Linked DNA regions of Homo sapiens. The protein of the gene in region 1 purifies or fractionates together with the protein of each later gene. This does not show direct contact. Each region holds a gene or a part of one and is shown on either strand. Other genes may lie near its edges.

Region 1 (5,119 bases):
CTATTTTTAATGTTTTGAGGGACTTCCATACTGTTTTCCATAATGATTGAACCACTTTACATTCCTACCAACAGTGTACAAGCGTTCCAATTTCTATGCAACTTTGCTAACATTTGCCAATTTCTGTTCTTTTGATAGTGATTATCCTAATGGGTATAAGGTGATACCTCACTGTAGTTATGGTTTGCATTTCCCCCATCCAATTATTATACTAACTAGGCCTGACCCTGCTTAGCTTCTGAGATCAGACAAGATTGGGCGTGTTCAGAGTGGTATGGCGGTAGACTTGATTTGCATGTATCTTAAGGTTAGTGACGTTGAGCATCTTTTCATATGTTTATTGGACATTAGTATATTTTGTTTCAATAATTGTTTATTCAAGTCTTTTACCCCTATTTTAATTAAGCTACTTGTTTTTTTGTTATTGACTTATAGAAGTTCCTTATATATTCCGAATATTAAACCCTTATCAGATAGCTAAATCTGTTCATAGCAAATGCTATTTCCTTGAAGTACATTTCTGGACATGAATACAAGTATCACTTAATGATTATATAAGTAATATATATGGTGGCTTTATATTAGAAATTCCCTCTGTTCTGCCTGTCAAACTACTATCTCTACGTAAAAGGAAAACTAAAGAAAGGACTAGAGAAACTGTCATTGAGTATTCAAGTAGTTCTGAGGAACTGTTATATTTAAAGAAACTAGTTTTTTTTTTTTTTTTTTTGAGACGGAGTCTCGCTCTGTCGCCCCAGGCTGGAGGGCAGTGGTGCAATCTTGGCTTACTGCAAGCTCTGCCTCCCAGGTTCATGCCATTCTCCTGCCTCAGCCTCCTGAGTAGCTGGGACTATAGGCGCCCACCACCATGCCTGGCTAATTTTTTTTTTTTTTTGTATTTTTAGTAGAGACGGGGTTTCATCGTGTTAGCCAGGATGATCTCGATCTCCTGACCTTGTGAACCACCTGCTTTGGCCTCCCAAAGTGCTGGGATTACAGGTGTGAGCCACCGTGCCTGGACAAGAAAGTAGTTTCTATTCCCATTACGGAAGCTTATTATGCATTGCTGGCAAGAAGTTCTTTGATTATCATTAGAGGAAAAAAACTTGTGAGGATAGTAGAAGGAATCAAAGAGACTGTAAGTATGGAGGGAAAAAAAGTTGGCAAATCTAGATGTTTGAGAAAGTATGAGAGAAGTGCAGCATAGAAACTATCAAAATTAAAATACAAGTTAACAGTAGTCATACAAAAATCAAAGTGAAGGTTGCAAATATAAGGTTGATATGGTTTGGCTATGTCCCCACACAAATCTCATCTTCAATTGTAACTTACACAATTCCCACAGGTGGTGGGAGAAACCTGGTGGGAGGTGATTGAATCATGGGGGTGGGTCTTTCCTGAGCTGTTCCCGTGACAGTGAATGAGTCTCACAAGATCTGATAGTTTTGAAAACAGGAGTTTCTCTGCACAAGCTCTCTCTTTGCCTGCGACCATCCATGTAAGATATGATTTGCTCCTCCTTGCCTTCCACCATGATTGTGAGGCCTCCCTAGCCATGTGAAACTGTGAGTCCAATTAAACCTCTTTCTTTGTAAATTGCCCAGTCTCAGGTATGTCTTTATCAGCAGCATGAAAACAGATTAATACAGTAAATTTGTACCAGGAGTGCGGTGCTGCTGAAAAGATACCCGAAAATGTGGAAGTGACTTTGGAACTGGGTAACAGGCAGAGGTTGGAACAGTTTGGAGGGCTCAGAAGAAGACAGGAAAATGTGGGAAAGTTTGAAACTTCCTAGAGACTTGTTGAATGGCTTTGCCCAAAATGCTAATAGCGATATGGACAATAAGGTCCAGGCTAAGGTGGTCTCAGATGGAAATGAGGAGCTTTTTGGGAACTGGAGCAAAGGTGACTCTTGTTATGTATTAGCAAAGAGACTGGTGACATTTTGCCCCGGCCCTGAAGATCTGTGGAACTTTGAACTTGAGGAAAATAATTTAGGATATCTGGCAGAAGGAATTTCTAAGCAGCAAAGCATTCAAGAGGTGAATTGAGTGCTGTTAAAGGCATTCAGTTTCAAAAGGGAAGCAGAGCATAAAAGTTCAGAAAATTTGCAGCCAGACAATGTGAGAGAAAAGAAAAGCCCTTTTTCTGAGGAGAAATTCAAGCTGGCTATAGAAATTTGCATAAGTAACAAGGAGCTGAATGTTAATCCCCAATACAATGGGGGAAAATGTATCCAAGACATGTCAGAAGTCTTCACAGCAGCCCATCCCATCACAGGCCTGGAGACCTAGGAGGAAAAAGTGGTTTCTTGGACCAGGCTCAGGGTTCCCGTGCTGTGTGCAGTCTAGGTATTTGGTGCCCTGCATTCCAGCTGCTCCAACCATGGCTGAAAGGGGCCAATGTAGAGCTTGGGGCATGGCTTCAGAGAGTGTAAGCCTCAAGCCTTGACAGCTTTCATGTGGTGTTGAGCCTGCGGATGCACAGAAGTCAAGAATTGGGTTTTGGGAACTTCCACCTAGATTTCAGAGGATGTATGGAAACACTTGGATGTCCAGGCAGAGGTTTGCTGCAGGGGCAGGGCTCTCATGGAGAACCTCTGCTATGGCAGTGCAGAAGGGAAATGTGGGTGTGGAACCTCCAAATAGAGTCCCTACTGGGGCACTGCCTTATGGAGCTATGAGAAGAGGGCCACCGTTCTCCAGACCCCAGAATGGTAGATCTACTGACAGCTTGCACTGTGCACCTGGAAAAGCCACAGATGCTCAATGACAGCCTTTGAAAGCAGCTGGGAGGGAGGCTGTACCCTGCAAAGCCACAGAGGTGGAGCTGCCCAAGACCATGGGAATATGCCTGTTGCAGCAACGTGAGCTGGATATGAGACATGGAGTCAAAGGCGATCATTTTGGACCTTTAAGATTTGACTGCCCCACTGGATTTTGAACTTGCATGGGGCCTGTAGCCCCTTTGTTTTGGCCAATTTTTCCCATTTTTAATGGCTGCATTTACCCAATGCCTGTACCCCCATTGTATCTAGGAAGTAACTAGCTTGCTTTTGATTTTACAGGCTCATAGGCAGAAGGGACTTGCCTTGTCTTGGATGAGACATTGTACTGTGGACTTTTGAGTTAATGCTGAAGTGAGTTAAGACTTTGGGGGACTGTTGGGAAGGCATAATTAGTTTTGAAATGTGAGGACATGAGATTTGGGAAGTGCCAGGGGTGGGATGATATGGTTTGGCTGTGTCCCCACACAAATCTCATCTTGAATTATAACTCCCACAATTTCCACATGTCATAGGAAGAAACCAGTGGAAGGTGATTAAATTATTGGGGTGGGTCTTTCCTGTGCTGTTCTCATGATAGTGAATGAGTTTCATGAGATCTGATCGTTTTAAAAACAGGAGTTTCTCTGCACAAGCTCTCTCTTTGCCTGCTGCCATCCACGTAAGATGTGACTTGCTCCTCCTTGCCTTCCACCATGATTGTGAGGCCTCCCCAGCCATGTGGAACTGTTAGTCCAATTAAACCTCTTGCTTTTGTAAATTCCCCAGTTTCGGGTATGTCTTTATCAGCGGAGTGAAAATAGACTAATACAAAGGTAGATAACTAATGAGAATAAATTAATGAAGGGCAAGAGATATATACTGTATAGCACAAGTCTTCATACAACAAGTAAGAATTCAGATGTCTCATTCCAAGAAAAATTGGGCAAGGCAAATAATAGGTAATAAACAAAAGGTTGTGTTTTTTTGGTTTGTTTTTGTTCTTGTTTTGCTTTTTTGTTTGTAACATATGCTAATATGAACACTGAAAAAATATTTTCTAGTGGTCAACTATATGGAAAAGATTGATTAAAAGCAAATCTCATGTTTTATGACATAAACTTTTTCCTTATTTTTCATAATCTGTATAGAGAAAAGAAAACGAGAATTTGGCCAGATTTTTGGAGATTATTGGAGCTGAAAAGTCTATTTTATATCTTTCAATATAGACAGCTTCTTAAAAAAACCCTAATATTATGGATAGACAGTGCAGAACCAAACATCTAAATATGACAATAGCACTTAATCTTTACCTGAGCCTTGATTTCTTCTCCCCATAAGCAGCATATTGTGAGCAGACTCTATTTGACAGAGTGGTGAGAAGTGATAAATGTTTAAGCTGGAGTCTCTAGAAAACAAGTGAAAGAATCTCATTATATGGTCAAGACTCATTGAATACTGTATAAATGGCAAAAATAGGGACTATTAATTTCATGATTTTTTAATGAATAGGAAACTGAACACTGGTGAAAGGAACTTATTGATATTACTTTTCCAGAGGTATTACATTTATTTTCCAATTAAGAAGATGCAAGGGTGGCATTTTAGAAACTTTTACTGATTGCAAAATCTCAATTTCTACCATTATCTAAAAGGAATGCTATTAGAAGAAAAAAACGTAAACATATAATAAGTAAAATGGGACATACCTCTTTCAAAAAGCATACAGTTGGGCTTGCAGAGGTACAGCAGGACCCTACCATAGAAAGATAACTCTTGGTGTAACTGACTAAAAGTGACAGAGGAGCTTGTCCGTAATTAGTGGAATATTCCCACATAAATCTGTGGAGGAAAAAATAGAATTGGTCAAAAAATTTGTGAATAAACAAAATCTACTTTTTTATTTGAGACAGTGTCTTGCCCTGTCATCTAGGCTGGAGTACATGGTATAATCATAGCTCACTGCAGTCTCAACCTCCTGGCCTCAAGCGATCCTCCTGCTTCAGCTTCCTGAGTAGCTGGGACTACAGGTGCATGCCACCATGCTCATCTAATTTTTTAATTTCTTGTATAAATTAGGTCTCACTAATTGTCCCAGGTTGGTCTTGAACTCCTGGGCTCAAGTGATCCTCCGACCTCAGCCTCTCAAAGTGCTAGGATTACAGATGTGAGCCACCATGCTTGGCCCCCAAAACCTACTTTTTAGTAAGTATTTTGATGGACAAAGGATATATGTTACATTAATTTATAGTTTTAATATCTAAAAAACACTAAGAATTTAGAGAAAAGGTTATAATACTGGCCACTATTAATCAGTATATTCATTCATTAAAAATAGATTTACAAATTTCTATG
Region 2 (4,309 bases), on another chromosome or scaffold:
CTGATGGACACCTTTTAAGGGGCTGTTGGTGATGTGTGGTTAAGTGACCCTAAGGGGGCAAGGACAGAATCTGGGGTCAGTTAAGGACCACTGCAATAATCTGGGTAAAATCATCATCATCATCATCATCATCGAGATTTGGAATATGGTGGAAGCGGCTGAAGTGGTGAGATGTTATCATATTCTGGTTCCATTTTAAAGGTGGTACTAAAAGGACCTGCTGGAAAATGGGCACTAGGGAGTGTTAGGGAAGAGAGGAGTCAAGCATGACCCCAAGGTTTTGGGCACTGACCACTGGTGGAAGAGCAGGTTGTAAAGGGGTGTGGAAAAGAGAAGAAAATGTTATTTTGCAGCTTATGAGAATAAGTAAAAGCAGAGATGGCCAGACAGTAATATGTGCAGGTGGTGAATCAATACTTTATATTCTAGTGAAATTTTCTGCTTAGAAAAAGGGTGAGGACATAGGAACAGCTCAGACTGAGGCTTGAAGAAAAAGTAAGACGTCTACCACATCACTTGAGACCATCTCTGTTGTCTTGCTTGATTCTCTAGTGAATGTCTGTTGGACTCTGGCAGGTTAGTGTGATAGCATGAATATGTAATGGTGTGGTCTAAATAAATGGGATGGAAAATGAGTGTGGCTGGGATTGGTGAGTGGGCATGGCCAAAAGTTGAGGCCTGTGAGCAGTTGCACAGGAAGCCCTGAGGTGAATGGAAACGCAGATCAGACTGGAGAAAAGCCTAGAGCACATGGGAAAAGGGTAAGAGCCTTGGCAAAGCAGGAGGGTGAAGCAACTGGTCGTCTTCAAAATGCCAAGGCCGAGGGTGTGGTTATGTCCTGTATGTGGGAGTAGTGACAAAACAGCACATGGTGTGATAGAATGAGATGGACTGGAGGGGGAGGTAAACATAACTGTGTCAAGTCGGTGACTCATGAGATCAAGAGGTCTAACGGCTCCTCGCCAGGAATCATGAGCTCACTAAGGATGATCATGAGAGAGGACAAGGAAAGGAAGCCAATGCTGAAGCTGAGGGAATTACACAAAATAGTCCAGATACACACATGCAGAGATTACGGGAAAGGTGCCAGCCACTGGGGAAAAATCACTTGGTATCTGAAGAGAAAAAAGTATATTAGGAAAACACACTTCAAGCTAAGAAGAGATTGGTTGCAAAGTTTTTTCAAATTGTAATATTGAAGTACACACCTCCTAGCTTTGTGGTATGGCAAGTGGGTTATAGCTAATTTAAAATTAACCCAAAAAATGACAAAATTTTGTCTTCCAGTTCATCTTAAAACTAAATTCCTGAAAACAATCTTGAGTACCACAATTTTTAAAAACTAATTACACTGACATTTCCAGTTCCTGGGTCCTAGTTATCAAGGCTGTGTGTGTGTGTGTGTGTGTGTGTGTGTGTGTGTGTGTACAATATAAACCAAATACAACCAGATCCATTAACACTTGATGAATTTAGGTGAAACTCTCACTTACGTATGGAAAATCCCAGAAAGATCTGGAGCTGGAACAGAGGATTCTGCTTGTATTCCATGGGCTTATTATTCAACTGTGGATCAAGTTAAGGTAAAATACAAATCATTTGTTTTGTGACACTTCCCAAAATAGACACACAATTGAAGGAAGACAAGGTTAGTGTTTTCCTGTGGTCCAATTCTACGTTAAAATCCTAGGAAAATAAACTGTTTGCAATCTACTTTAGCAACTATGCTGCTACCTATGACACACAAGACAAAAATCTAACATTTCCTAATATGATACAGCTCAAAGGCCTTTCAAGATATTTGGGAAGTTTAGATTTTTGTCTTGTGGGTCACAGGTAGCCACTGAAAAATTGACCAAGAATGGCAGTATATTTGCATTTCAGATCCTTCATTCTGGTGGAATGAAGGAAGGCTTGGAGGGGGAAGAGACTGGAGGTTGGGAGGCCGTTGTAATACGTGAGGCAAATTTCAAGGACCTCTACTGTAAGGAGGGAGAAAAGAAATGGAGTCGGTTATAGATAGGTGGGTGAAGTGCCTGAGTGAGCCGGGGGAAGTAGCTCCTTGATAATTCAGTGTTCTGGCTCAAACAAATGAGTAAATCTGGTATTTGTGGTCCTATTTATTATTACACATTTCATTCATCTATGGATTTTTAGGGACTGCCATAGCGCTTGGCTCACACTCAAGAGTTCATGAGTTTATGGAACAAACCAACACTGTTCATTTGGGATTCTTTTAAAATCACTGCTCATTAGCTGAGCTAATTTTTGCCTCTGCAGACATTTCTGTTATGTCAGCATCACCCACATGACCTACCTACTACTCACCATTGTTCCAATTTAACTACTTCAAGTGAAAAGTTACTAAATTGGCAGTACCACATTGGGCAAAGTCTGTTACTTCAATTGGTCTCTCCAAAATTCCTGAGGCCCTGGGTGCAAAGTCTCAGTTCTCTGAAATCCTGACCTAATTCACAAGGGTTACTGAAGATTTTTCTTGTTTCCAGGACCTCTACAGTGGATTAATTGGCCCCCTGATTGTTTGTCGAAGACCTTACTTGAAAGTATTCAATCCCAGAAGGAAACTGGAATTTGCCCTTCTGTTTCTAGTTTTTGATGAGAATGAATCTTGGTACTTAGATGACAACATCAAAACATACTCTGATCACCCCGAGAAAGTAAACAAAGATGATGAGGAATTCATAGAAAGCAATAAAATGCATGGTATGTCACATTATTCTAAAACAATTTTTCTACTTTTTTATCATTTTCTCTTTCAAATAAAATTATTTTGGAGACCATTCATTTGTTTTGTCTTAAAATAAACCACTTCTGCCTCACTTTGTATGTCAGGTAGAATCCTGTTCAAAACAAAAAGGGGACTATGTTCAAAATCATTTGCTAATTTATTTTCCAATTCCAAAATCTCATTTCCTTTGAAATAATCCAAAACTAAGATTAAGGCTTTTGGTGCAAAGTGCCTAGAAAAGCAATGTGATATTATTGACTTTAAAGTATCCATTTCTCTCATTTGTAGTAAAATAAGTCCTATTACATCAAAAAGATTCTTTACATTAACCTAATAATCATATTTTCTTTGAAATAGCTATTGGTTTAAAATATCCTGAAAAGTAACATAAAACCATATGCTTTCCCTAGCTATTAATGGAAGAATGTTTGGAAACCTACAAGGCCTCACAATGCACGTGGGAGATGAAGTCAACTGGTATCTGATGGGAATGGGCAATGAAATAGACTTACACACTGTACATTTTCACGGCCATAGCTTCCAATACAAGGTAAGAGCTATCCATGGCAATTACTCTTGCTCTGTTTGAAAATGTTTTAATACAAGTGAAGAAAATATTTTCTCAGAGAGACTTATGAAAAAAAGCTGCAAAGAGTACAGCCGGTGCTTCATATCCGTGGATTCCCCACCCAGGATTCAATCATGGATTGAAAATATTCAGGAAAAAATAATTCCACTAAGTTCCAAAAAGCAAAACTTGGATCTGCTGCACTGAGTACTATGTTGAATCCATGCAAATGAAATGATATGTAGGCACTGTATTAGGTATTATAATAATCTAGAGATGATTTAAAGTATATGGAAGGATGTGCATAAGTTAAATGGAAATATGCCATTTTATATAAGGGACTTGAGCATCCATGGATTTTGGTATGGGGGCATTCCTGAAACCAATCCTCCATAGATACTGAGGGATGCCTATATAAGGCACAGCAATTTCAATTGACACACTAGCCTTTGTTACACATTGAGCTCTTCCTAGGATTTGCATTTTTAACTGAATTTTCATGGAGTTCTGCTCAGATTCCTGATTAAGGCAACTGAGCGGAATTGCTAACAAAGAGGGTAGGAATGTTCACATAATGATGGATGAGAGTAGAGACCACAACAAGACTTTATTATAACCCTTGCCCTGCCTGTTCTAAGTTCTGTATCTTAAATGGCCCATGGTGAGCAAGATCAGTTAGGTGACAAGCAACTGGTCTGTACATCTCAATCTTACTTCTATTCTTTCTCAGTACTGATTTCAGCAGAAGCCAGTGGCCCTCCTGGAAATGCTTTTTCCTTATGCTTTGGGCTAATTTAGAAAAGGCAGAAGTTATCAAAAAGCATACTGCAGAAAGCCTGTTTTGTTACCTGCATTTTGTTTTACATAGATATATTGTATTCTTAGTGGGCTTTCAATTCTATCCTTGCAGAAATAGACTATTGTCACCCAACTACTGTTTCCAGCCGAGACTCCCTGAAGTGCCTCTGGTTTTTGTCGTTTTCATCAGCCTC
Region 3 (4,309 bases), on another chromosome or scaffold:
CCTGGCTAATTTTTTGTATTTTTAGTAGAGATGAGATTTCACCATGTTGCCCAGGCTGGTCTAGAACTCCTGGACTCAAGTGATCTGCCCCCCTCGGCCTCCCACAGTGTTGGGATTATAGGCATGAGCCACCACACCTGGCCCAGGGGCCCTATTTTGAGAACCAGAGCTATGCTGCTTTGTGCAATGAAGTAAATGATGAGTTCCCAACCCATTAATGTAGCCAATACATAGGCTGGCAATCAACCACTTTAATGTGGTGTGGTCTGAAAATATGGACTGGGCCATTCAGATTCCCTCTCTGGAAATCTTACTAGGAAAAAAGAGCAACTGAGGGAGGTATCAGTTGGAACTGAGACTGAAAGATCATGAAGTAGTGAGAAAGTGGAGAGAACATGATGGTCCACGTGCAAGCCAAAGTTGTGAAGAAGCAAAGAGAATAGATAAAAACCTATGAGGGGCCAGGCGTGGTTGCTCATGCCTGTAATCCTAGCACTTTGGGAGGCCGAGGCAGGCGGATCACCTGAGGTCAGGAGTTCGAGACCAGCCTGGCCAACATGGTGAAACCCTATCTCTACTAAAAATACAAAAATTAAATTAATAAATAGTACATTGTAACCCAAAAAAAAATACAAAAATTAGCCAGGCATGGTGGTATGCGCCTGTAGTCCCAGCTATACGGGAGGCTGAGGCAGGAGGATCGCTTGAACCCAGGAGGCAGAGGTTGCAGTGAACCAAGATTGCGCCATTGCACTCCAGCCTGGGTGACAGAGTGAGACTCCATCTCAAACAACAGCAACAACAACAACAAAACTGTGAGTCAGAGAAAGAAAAATTTACCAGTGAGAGGGGAGGGACTGCCCCATGCTGTAGCTGGGTCATGTTGGTGATTTTACCAAAATAGTGCATTCTCACCTCAGCTAGGTATATATATATATATATGGGTTTTTTGTTTGTTTGTTTGTTTTGTTTTGTTTTTTGTTTTTGTTTTTTTTGAGACATGGTCTCACTCTGTCACCCAGGCTGGAGTGCAGTAGCACGATCACGGCTCACTGAAGCCTCGACCTTCCGGGCTCAGCCTCTGAAGTAGATGGGACTATAGGAACGCACTACCACACCCGACTAATTTTTATATTTTTTGTAGAGATGAGGTTTTGCCATGTTGCCCAGGCTGGTCTCAAACTCCTAGGCTCAAGCCGCTCAAGCAATCCACCTGCCTCAGCCTCCCAAAGTGCTAGGATTACAGGCGTGACTCACCACGCCCGGCCTGGGTATTTTTAATATAAGGTGTTCTCTCCATGCTGTGGGCTCTCTCAACAGCTATGGAACATACATGACATTTTTCATTTAGGAGTTCAGTAGCATTCTCATTATGGCCACATGGCCTTGAAGTTCTGTGATCTCTAGATGGCTTGGTGTCTCTCTCTATTTCTGTGTGTTTCCTGTGGCCCTGTTTTCACAATCTCTCACTCACTCTCTCTCTCTTTCTGCATTTCACTTTGTCTGTGTGTCCTCCCAATGGGCTCCCACCATGGCTGTGTGTTCTCTTGATACTTATGTGTTCTTACTATGGCGTATGTTCTCAGTTTAATGTTGTATTTTCACTACAGGTGTGTGTTTCATCTTAGCTGTATGTTCTTATTATAGTGTGCAATCCTGCTGTGGAGATTTGCTCTCCATGTGGTGATGTATTTTTCAACAGAACTTGATAGTCATAACTGGTCAAATTTGTCCAAGGGTCAGGAGCCAAAAAAATTTTGTGTGAAAAAAATATTTTCACGATTTTATATTCTTACCACTGTCCTAATTATACATATATCTCAGGTTGGATGTGATGTGGTTGCTCACTCCTCTTGGGGATATTCTCAACTGTGCAGCATGACTATTTACTGCCTGACTGAACTCAGAACAGCCCTAGGTATTATTAGATGGCTTTTACCAATTGATGCCACGGGTCAAGGGAGGGGTATCTCCATTGGCTACTCAGAGGAGAAACCTCCAGAGGCTAGTGAAGCCAGCCTCTAAAGGTCTAAAGTACCCAACACTTCTCAGCTGGTTCTCAGCAATGAGAACATCTCATCCCCAGGCAGTGCTATGCCCAGGGGTCTGGACATAGGAACCAGGAACCTGAAACAAGATGGAGTTCTGAGGATAAATCAGGGGGAGCCAGAGGACTCAGAAAGATATGCAAGAACAAAGGGAGGCAAGGAGGTACAGAGACACATAGAGGTCCAGGGAGCAAGGGAGAGCCAGAGGGCTCAGCAGGGCATTGAGCAAGGAGAACACAAGGAGTCATAGGGGCCCAGAGAGGTCCACAGGGGGCACAGCCATGGGAGTAGATGGTAGACAGGTAGATGAAGTTAGGGGCTTGGGCCGTGACAGACAAGATTGAGAAATATGCCTCAGAGATGAGGGATGCAGAAGGGCATGCAGAAGGATGGGGACAGAGGGGACAAAATAAGTGACACAGTGATGACAATGGAGAAATGTGTCAAGGATGGGAGATACAAGTAAAAGAGATGTGAGAGCACATTGGGGGAGTTGGGGGCATCTCTCACCACTGAAGGCATAGGTGGCACCATGGTTGTCAGACGTCAGTGCAGACAAGACTAGATGTGGGCTACAGCGCATATACTCAGGGCCATGGTGGGTACTGTTCCCATGGCCAGTCCCATTCCTGTGTCCATGGCCTGGAGAGAGAAATGGGTGAGGAGAACACAGAAGGAGGCCAGAGGTCAGAGTGAGGTCCAAGGTGGAAGAGATGGCTGGGGTTAGTGGGGTGTGGGTTTCCCCATATGAGGGCAATGGGAAAATCCAGAATGGAAATGGGGCTAGATTAAGGGCCAAGGTGTCGCAACACGGAGTTAAAGTGAGAGCTAGGACACGTGAGATCCACAAGCTCAGGGAAAGTGGATGAATTCTGACAGGTCTCAAGTGCTAGGGCTTTCTCACCTCTGCCAGGGCAGGGCATGAAGTAGTCTCGGACATCCCGCGGGTACCTGGGAGGCACCTCTCCCCTGACAGGGTCGAAGCGCAGGAATTGGTTACCCTGGAAGCAGTAGTAGCGGCCCAGCCATCTCAGGGCAGAGGAGCAGTTCCCAACAGCTGGCCAGGAACGCTCCTTCATGGTTCCCGTAGCCAAGTCCCAGAACCACTCGCGGTCACCTTTGTCCAATCAATCAACAGGCATTTGGTGAGACCGGGTTACGCCCTCCTTTGTGCTTTCTCTGGGTCCCAGGATGGGCCAGATAATGGTACTGACCACATGGAGCTCACAGCCATCAGAGAGATGGCTAAAGGAGGGTGATCATACACCAAAATTCAGCAGCAAAACACACAGGATCAGCTCAGCAAAGGCAGTGGGGAGAGTCTGGGAAAACTTCCCAGGGAAGATGATACTTAAAGTGAAATCTGAAGTAGGAATTAAAAGGCACACAAGGAGAGATGGAACCCCAGAGAGAGGAAAGATTCCAAAGCATGGAGCAAACTGAGTGTACAGAGAATAGCATAGGGTTTCTGGAGCTTAGTGTTAAGGTAAAAGTATAATAAAAGTCAAAGCTGAAGGGCCAATAGGGATTTGGCCATGGAGAGACTTGTATGTAAGACTAAAGAGGGTAGATTTGTCCTAAGGGTCATGGGGAACAATGAGGGACTATTCACACAGAATTACACACAGTTGCCTTCACCAGAATGACTTCCTCTCCTTCCCTCACGTGACCTCTAGACCATACGTGGCTTCTCTATTTCCCTTCCTTAAAAAGCCACATAGTGGCTCCACCACCACCATCACTACCACTATCACCATCACTACTGGCATCACTACCAACCCACCACTACTCCAGGTTCTTGGATTCCAGCCTGGACTGACCTTGGAAGAAGAGGACGCCTTCAGCTTGACATTCTCCACGGTGACATTCCACAGCTGCATCCAGTGGGGATGGGATTCCAGGAAATTCATCTTGGAGCAACTTTGGGTATCCTTTCTCCTTCTTTTCAGGAGGGTATACCCAGACTTTGTCCCCCTGCATTCAAAAGTACTCTCTTTTTGACTGTGCATCCCCAGATACTGCCACTCTGCATTTACACACATTTTTTATCTACTGTGCTTATACGATATCCTCCTGTGGCCCTACACATTCTCAGTCCATCTGTGGACAACAATGTGCTGTCCTTTTGCACATTACACACTCTCAGTTTGTGCAAATCCAGTCACTATTACTATAACACACATGCCTCTAGCTCTGTACCCAGACACTCCTGTGGCACATTTATCTGCAACACTATCAGTGTTGACAAACATATCCACAAC

Evidence for each region. The genes of interacting proteins can lie anywhere in the genome.
Region 2: the proteins of GC (region 1) and CP purify together in Homo sapiens (affinity purification with mass spectrometry, with the first as the bait; one large-scale study listed by BioGRID). This does not show direct contact.
Region 3: the proteins of GC (region 1) and HPX purify together in Homo sapiens (affinity purification with mass spectrometry, with the first as the bait; one large-scale study listed by BioGRID). This does not show direct contact.

The regions. Positions count from the first base shown.
Region 1 is NC_000004.12:71,759,331-71,764,449, forward strand, and holds part of GC (vitamin D-binding protein isoform 1 precursor), read right to left. Parts: intron 4,607-5,119; coding exon 4,474-4,606; intron 4,173-4,473; coding exon 4,078-4,172; intron 1-4,077. UniProt on the Homo sapiens protein: Involved in vitamin D transport and storage, scavenging of extracellular G-actin, enhancement of the chemotactic activity of C5 alpha for neutrophils in inflammation and macrophage activation.
Region 2 is NC_000003.12:149,176,830-149,181,138, reverse strand, and holds part of CP (ceruloplasmin precursor), read left to right. Parts: intron 1-1,476; coding exon 1,477-1,583; intron 1,584-2,507; coding exon 2,508-2,724; intron 2,725-3,159; coding exon 3,160-3,299; intron 3,300-4,309. UniProt on the Homo sapiens protein: Multifunctional blue, copper-binding (6-7 atoms per molecule) glycoprotein. It has ferroxidase activity oxidizing Fe(2+) to Fe(3+) without releasing radical oxygen species. It is involved in iron transport across the cell membrane.
Region 3 is NC_000011.10:6,434,488-6,438,796, forward strand, and holds part of HPX (hemopexin precursor), read right to left. Parts: intron 4,023-4,309; coding exon 3,869-4,022; intron 3,166-3,868; coding exon 2,953-3,165; intron 2,691-2,952; coding exon 2,559-2,690; intron 1-2,558. UniProt on the Homo sapiens protein: Binds heme and transports it to the liver for breakdown and iron recovery, after which the free hemopexin returns to the circulation.